2 linked regions of the Homo sapiens genome follow. The protein of the gene in region 1 purifies or fractionates together with the protein of each later gene. This does not show direct contact. Each region holds a gene or a part of one and is shown in the gene's direction. Other genes may lie near its edges.

The links.
Region 2: the proteins of SLC24A2 (region 1) and GPAT4 purify together in Homo sapiens (affinity purification with mass spectrometry; one large-scale study listed by BioGRID and IntAct). This does not show direct contact.

Annotation. Positions count from the first base shown.
Region 1 is NC_000009.12:19,782,537-19,786,037, reverse strand, and holds part of SLC24A2 (sodium/potassium/calcium exchanger 2), read left to right. Parts: coding exon 1-101; intron 102-3,501. UniProt on the Homo sapiens protein: Calcium, potassium:sodium antiporter that transports 1 Ca(2+) and 1 K(+) in exchange for 4 Na(+). Required for learming and memory by regulating neuronal Ca(2+), which is essential for the development of synaptic plasticity.
Region 2 is NC_000008.11:41,609,199-41,612,699, forward strand, and holds part of GPAT4 (glycerol-3-phosphate acyltransferase 4 isoform 1 precursor), read left to right. Parts: intron 1-217; coding exon 218-287; intron 288-456; coding exon 457-757; intron 758-763; exon of another isoform or gene 764-1,423; intron 1,424-1,537; coding exon 1,538-1,612; intron 1,613-2,704; coding exon 2,705-2,794; intron 2,795-2,981; coding exon 2,982-3,075; intron 3,076-3,501. UniProt on the Homo sapiens protein: Converts glycerol-3-phosphate to 1-acyl-sn-glycerol-3-phosphate (lysophosphatidic acid or LPA) by incorporating an acyl moiety at the sn-1 position of the glycerol backbone. Active against both saturated and unsaturated long-chain fatty acyl-CoAs.

The DNA of each region.
Region 1 (3,501 bases):
TGGTTTTCATGAAATTCAACGTCCAAGTAGAAAAATGGGTGAAGCAAATGATAAACCGCAATAAGGTCGTCAAGGTGACAGCACCAGAAGCCCAAGCAAAGGTTGGTGGTGGTGGATTTTTATTTAATGCTTTTCTTGACTACGGTTCTGAATTATTATGTTTTTGAGATCTGCAGTTCTTTTGATGTGATGGTGTTTGGGGCTCTTGTGGATAGCAGATTGATTCTGCAGTTCTGTGATAGCTAGACTAACATAGCAGTGGAAAAAATAATTTTGGGGTATTCTTGCAGATGTTTACTAAGTTCCTCAGCTACTTGCTTCAGAGTAAAACACTTGTAAATATAGGTTACATAAGCCTCCCAAAGCCAATTCAGCAGTTATTTGTCTCTTATTTTCTGAAAGTGGGCATAATGATTTTGTGAACAATTTAATTTTCATAGGAAAGTGTGTATGTGCCTAGAAAGTTGCAAGGCCTTTTCTTTTTAAATGAACACATGGCAATTACCAAGAAAGAACCATCTCTTTAGAGATGTCTGAGGAAGAAAGTTTGTGTCACCGTAGCTGTACCTTCCAGTCAGCAGCCTAGCCCAGCAGGGCTTGTCATTATTGTTGTCATGGCTGTTTTTCTTGATTGACACAATCATGTCTTAGGTCACTTGACCAGGAACTGATCAGCATCCATTGTAAAGAGAATCATTGGCCAGCCCTGCCATCTGCCTCTGCATCACAATGACCCACTTTGCACACCATAATAAACATGACTTCAACTATTTTTAGAGTAGAATTTGAGGGAGTTTTAATAACAATCGTGGCCATCCTACCACTTAGGTGAGTGGAAAGCAGATTGGTAAAGAGCTTAGAAGTAATTCCTGCAAACACCTAAATTATTTTTTTAAATAGTGGACAAATGGCATCAATACAATCGTATGTGGTATTGTAATGGAGTTCTGATTTATATCCTAGCAGTGGAATATCATCTCTGAATGTGATTTTAAACAGAAAGCCAAAATACCTACATAGACTTTTCATGCCAGCATCTGGGAAAATTCTCATATATGCAAAAAACAGATATTTGAGCAGGGGGTGAAAGATTTTGTTCAAAAAGAAAAGAAAAATGATATTAATATGGTTAAATTTGCATAATTCTTTTATAGCCAAGTTTGATGACCGTCCTTTTCATTGCAGCCATGAAATGGAAGCAAAGGGCAGGATAAAACACTAGCAATATTTCTACTTGTACTACATATTTTCTAACATTTCTCTCGTATGCTTGTTTGTTAGAAACTATAGTAAAACCAAAAAATCATTTAGCAAAATATACGGCAAACAAGCATTCAGATGTGACAACTGAGTACATCTCCTTCAGGGCATAAAATAGGACCATCATTGGAAGTTCTCCCCTACTCTAACTTAGCAGCCAAAAAGGTGATCCCTCAAGTGCTCTCCTCGAGTCCGTTTGGGTGGTGTACATTGATAGTCTTGTGTTTATTCCAATTAAAGTACTGAACGATTGTCAAGGAAATGCTTATTTTTTAGAGGCAAGGAAATGATTCGATGTCTTATAAATTTCTTGGGTGCATCAATGCTGAAAAGTCTCTTTGAGAACTCAGTACTTTCTTGTTTTCTTACACCCTAGTGGAACTTCATTAACTTAGAGACTTGGCTGAATGTTATATTGGCAACATTTATGAAAAATGAATCTGCAGAGCAATCCAATGGTATATGTAGGATTGCGGAAGGATTTTGTATTCTGATTTTAGTGGGGTGGAAGATGGTTTAGTGGAGTGGAAGATGCTTTCATGCGTTTTAGAAATAGCTTTCCAAATATAGGTTTATAGACTGTATTTAGTCAATTATAAACCATTCATTAAAGTAGCCCTGGAATGATCTTTACCTACTCAATTAGGTGACTTATGTCATTTTTATGATTATTTTAAGGTCAGAAATTCAGGTTGTCATCCCTTAACCCTTGTTATTTGCATCCATAATTTTGTGCTATACTTAATATTGTGTGTTCTAAAATTTGGGAATTCTAGATTTACTTGATTGAAAAAGAAAGCAGGTTATATTCATAACTATTTCTGTTTCTGATTTCCCCCCAAAATGTGTTCATTGTATTGTTTTCCATTTAGCACCAAATAGCTTTAATTTATTCCAGTTAGTCATTAATGTTTCTTTTGACATTGGTTAACTAATGGAAGTAGAGATTTTTTTCTAAACAAAGCTATGTCTTATTTTGTACTTCTCAAAAAAATGCCAGAGCACAGTCACACGTTTTTAAGTGGAACGTGCATAAGGATGTGTGATTTCCTTTAGGAAATACCACTTGCCAATTTCACTTTTGAATTATTGCTGGAATTTTTTCTGTAATTACAGCCTTTATCATATGCCTGATTGCAGAAACTTAGGGAGGTTTTCCCCCCCAGGCACTGAACATAATCACATCTCTGAATGTGATTTTAATGTAATTTGATTCATCCTGAAATGGGGATGAATCCTGGAGTGTGGTCATCTAGTCACCTGGCTGCAGAGTTGAATTCTGACTGTGTAGCTTACCTTTCTTACAGAAATTAATGCTTCTGACATCACCAAAACATCTAGGAAAAAAAGACTTTAAGCCAAATGCGGCCTTCAGTGGAGTCTTCCTAGAGAGGAATGTGCTGTACAAGAATTTAGGAAGCAAAATACTAAGCATGTTTTCATGCAAAGTCACTTCATTGTCCTGTTTGCAAAATTATGGGACATGGGAGTTTGGGAAGGTAGAGGAATCACATTTTAGATATTCTTATACAAATCATCAAATGGTTCTTGCAAAAAAGTCAACTCTGCTGGGCTCTAGGCAGTGAATATCCTTGAAACTACTTGCTTCATAGGCAAATATAAAATCTTAATTTGGTTCCATTGTTGATGATGTACATCATAGGGTAACTGTGAAGCATGGAAAAACATGAACTGGCATTATTTTTCATAGTTAAAGCAACAGTTTCTCATCTCATTTAAATTTCTCTACCTTGTGTGTGGTTCTTATTTTTATTATTGTTATTTCTTTTAGTGATGCTACTACCCTTTTTAAAAAGTTATATACCATCATGACACAGTGAAGAGACCCTGGGGCTTTAACTCAAAAAGGAAAGAGTCTTTAGCCTGGTTGTGTAATAAGCCCAGTGATTTCAGAGAAGTCATTTTAACTCTCTAAGCCTCAGTTTCCTAATTGGAAAATGAGAATAATGATACCTACTTCATAAGATTGGTAAAATTATTAAATGAAGAAATGAATGTTAAGCATCTAGCATGATCCTTGGAAAATGTGGGTTGTTTTCAATGAATGTTAATGCCTTCCTTTTATGTTTCATTCTTAAGTGAAAAATGAGTTGGAATAAATTATTTTAGATTCAAGAGTTATAAAACATTCCTTGAAGACTGAACTTGCTCCAGTGAATCCTTGAGTTAAGCAGTCCGTCATACCCCTTAGGGTTATATAATATTTGCTGTATTATAATA
Region 2 (3,501 bases), on another chromosome or scaffold:
AGTGTTTTGCTATAGGTGACTTAACTCTTGGTCCCAGTTGTCAAGGAAGGGGCTGCTCTGGGGAGAGGTGGTTTGAGTTTCCTTCTAGACTATGTGCTTCTTGGCTACGGTCTTAGGTGACTGGGACTGAGGCTTTCACAGAATAGAGATGGAGGTGTTCACTGATTGAAAACAGGTCTCATTCTTGCTCTTGTATCTTGCTTCCTTCCCCTCCCAGTGGGCTACCTTGAGAATGGAGCGAGGAGCCAAGGAGAAGAACCACCAGCTTTACAAGCCCTACACCAACGGTAAGATGGGGGTGTGATCCTTGTCCTGAGAGGTCCATTTGAACAGTGTTCCCCAGTGCTTCTGGTGCCACACACGCTCTTCCCTGCATTAGTGCAGGATGTGTGCTCTGAGTATGTCTCACGTGCTCTCCCCCAGCGTGCTGCTTGACAGGGACACATTCTTTTGCAGGAATCATTGCAAAGGATCCCACTTCACTAGAAGAAGAGATCAAAGAGATTCGTCGAAGTGGTAGTAGTAAGGCTCTGGACAACACTCCAGAGTTCGAGCTCTCTGACATTTTCTACTTTTGCCGGAAAGGAATGGAGACCATTATGGATGATGAGGTGACAAAGAGATTCTCAGCAGAAGAACTGGAGTCCTGGAACCTGCTGAGCAGAACCAATTATAACTTCCAGTACATCAGCCTTCGGCTCACGGTCCTGTGGGGGTTAGGAGTGCTGATTCGGTACTGCTTTCTGCTGCCGCTCAGGTGAGGCAGGGCCTGCGGGAGTGGGGCTCGCTGCTGCCACCCCACGTGGTGCACAGCCCACCTGCCTGCTCTGCTGTGTATTCCCGTTTTAGAAAGGAGGAGGGAATGACTGTCGTTAGCCAGGCCACGTGACTCTTTGGAGGGATACACTGGTGATTCTCCTTTAGAGGCCCTTGGATTCTCTGCATATCAGACAGAAATAGTTGGATTTCTTAAAGACAGCTTGCTTCTCTAGATGACAGCAAACACAGGGACAGGGAACATTGTGTGCTTTCTGCCACTCCTTCCTGGACATGGCTCATTCTTTCCTGAAGCTTGCCTCTCAGGTACAGGGGCAGTATTGATCTTTCAGCTTCTCTGCACCATGTGCTGCTCTGAGTGTGCCTTGCCAGATGCTAATACCTTCAAGCTCCACCTCCTGTTGCTTCAGAGGGAAGCTGTGCTTCCACCGGGGTTTCCAGCCAAAGGGAAGGGGAGGGCAGCAGGGAGCAGCCCTGTGGCAGAATGGCCAGCTTAGGGTTTTCCAGCCTTCCAGCTGCCTGAGGCCTCAGGAGATGCAGGCAGCTGAGAGCCAGACCCATGGCTCACTGTCAGCTGGAATCAAAAGGATCTCTGGTTCTGATAGGCCTGCTTACATTTCTAGGTGAACTCTGGTCCAGGTCCCAGGTGAGCAGGTCTTGGGGGTGGTTTTTGTGATGCCCCCTTTGATTTTCACACCTTCAGTTCTGTACTTGGTAGAATGATTTGCTGGCTGTGCTCTAACTTTTCTTCTTCTTACAGGATAGCACTGGCTTTCACAGGGATTAGCCTTCTGGTGGTGGGCACAACTGTGGTGGGATACTTGCCAAATGGGAGGTGAGTAGAGTGTGGCAGTCCATGCCTGAAGGACAGTTAGTTCTGGGAATGGTGCTCAGATATCGAAGGCAAGGACACTTCTTTGGACACAACCAAAGCCATGGAATCTTAGATGGATTAAATAACCCAGTGGTGGCCAGGCACGGTGGCTCATGCCTGTAATCCCAGCACTTTGGGAGGCTGAGGTGGGTGGATCACCTGAGGTCAGGAGTTTGAGACCAGCCTGGCCAGCATGGCGAAACCTGTCTCTACTAAAAATACAAAAGTTAGCCAGGCACGGTGGCGGGTGCCTGTAATCCCAGCTACTTGGGAAGCTGAGGCAGGAGAATCCTTGAATCCAGGGGGCAGAGGTTGCAGTGAGCCAACATCACACCACTGCACTCCAGCCTAGGCAACAGAGCGAGACTCCATCTCAAATAATAATAACAACCCAATGGCAACAACGGCATCAGCAGTAAAGTCTTTACTTTTTTTAAATTTTGATCTATGACTGTTCTTTTTGTCCTTCAGCCCTCACATTCTTCCCATTTTGAAGACAAAAGGGAGGAGCCACAGACATGTAGAGTCCGAGACTCAGATGTTAACAGATTTTACAGCTTGTTGTTTAGTTTTGAGCATTTGACTGTGTGGATAAAGTGATGAGACAATACAGTTTTTAAAATGGTTTGAAATGTAGGGAGGTTTTGTCTGTTTGTGTGAAGAATATTTTGCTCCCTTTGGGAAGTTCTGGGGTTTAGAAACCTTTCTTCTGCCTGGGCGGGTGAGGAGGTTGGCCTCTGGCCTTGGACCTGCCTCTGGATGTTGACTGGGGGAACGGAGTTCAGCCCGCCTGTGGTCTGCGGATGCCGGATTCTAGGCTGTGAATTCTCCACCCACTGATTTGGGTGGATGTAAGTGAGTCTCCCTGTCCCCTCTTTCTCTCCTCATGTGTGAACATAAAGGTGCTCATGCATCACAGGACTTTCCTGTAGGTGCTGATGTCTATACAAGCACTTTGCTGTTATAAAGGACTGCTGAGCTGTTGAAGTCAGTAACTCTTTCTGTCTTCCTGTATGTAAAATAAAACCCAGAATCCTTGTCCTGTTATTGCAGGTTTAAGGAGTTCATGAGTAAACATGTTCACTTAATGTGTTACCGGATCTGCGTGCGAGCGCTGACAGCCATCATCACCTACCATGACAGGTGAGAGCGCTTTGTATTGATAGGAAGGGAGATGGCGCTGCAGGAAACACCACCCACCTATACTTAGCCAAATGGGAAGACACTTCTGAGCTTTTAGTTAGAGCAGATGAAGCATGTGAGGTGAGAGGTGTGTTACATGAACTGTTTCACACTAATTTTGGTTGCTTTGCATACATTTTAAACCCAGGGAAAACAGACCAAGAAATGGTGGCATCTGTGTGGCCAATCATACCTCACCGATCGATGTGATCATCTTGGCCAGCGATGGCTATTATGCCATGGTAAGAGCTCTTTCCGGTGCGTTCTTGAGGCAAGACTTCCTGCTTTAGAGTGGTCAGGGCTAGGAGGCTCCTGGACCCTTCACATAAACACATTTATGCGTGGGCCAGGCCCCCACCTTACTGTCACTGTGGGGGCTCTGTGGGACTGTGATAGGAGATACCCTGGGCAGAGTGATTGGTGAGTGTGGCTGGAGAGGATGCCAAGGGCAGTCAGGCAGACCAGCAGGGGCAGAGGGAGTTGCTGGCAAGGACTGTGTCCAGGGCATCTGAGAATCTGCCCAGGGAGGGGCAGTTTTACACAGGGAATTGCGCTACTTTAGTATTTTAGTATTTTGTCTTAGGGGTTTCAGTTATGTTTTTAATTACCTATTTCTAGTATTACTGATTAAAAGGAGAAGTTTAAGATTTGGGGAGTCTTGGTAGTGG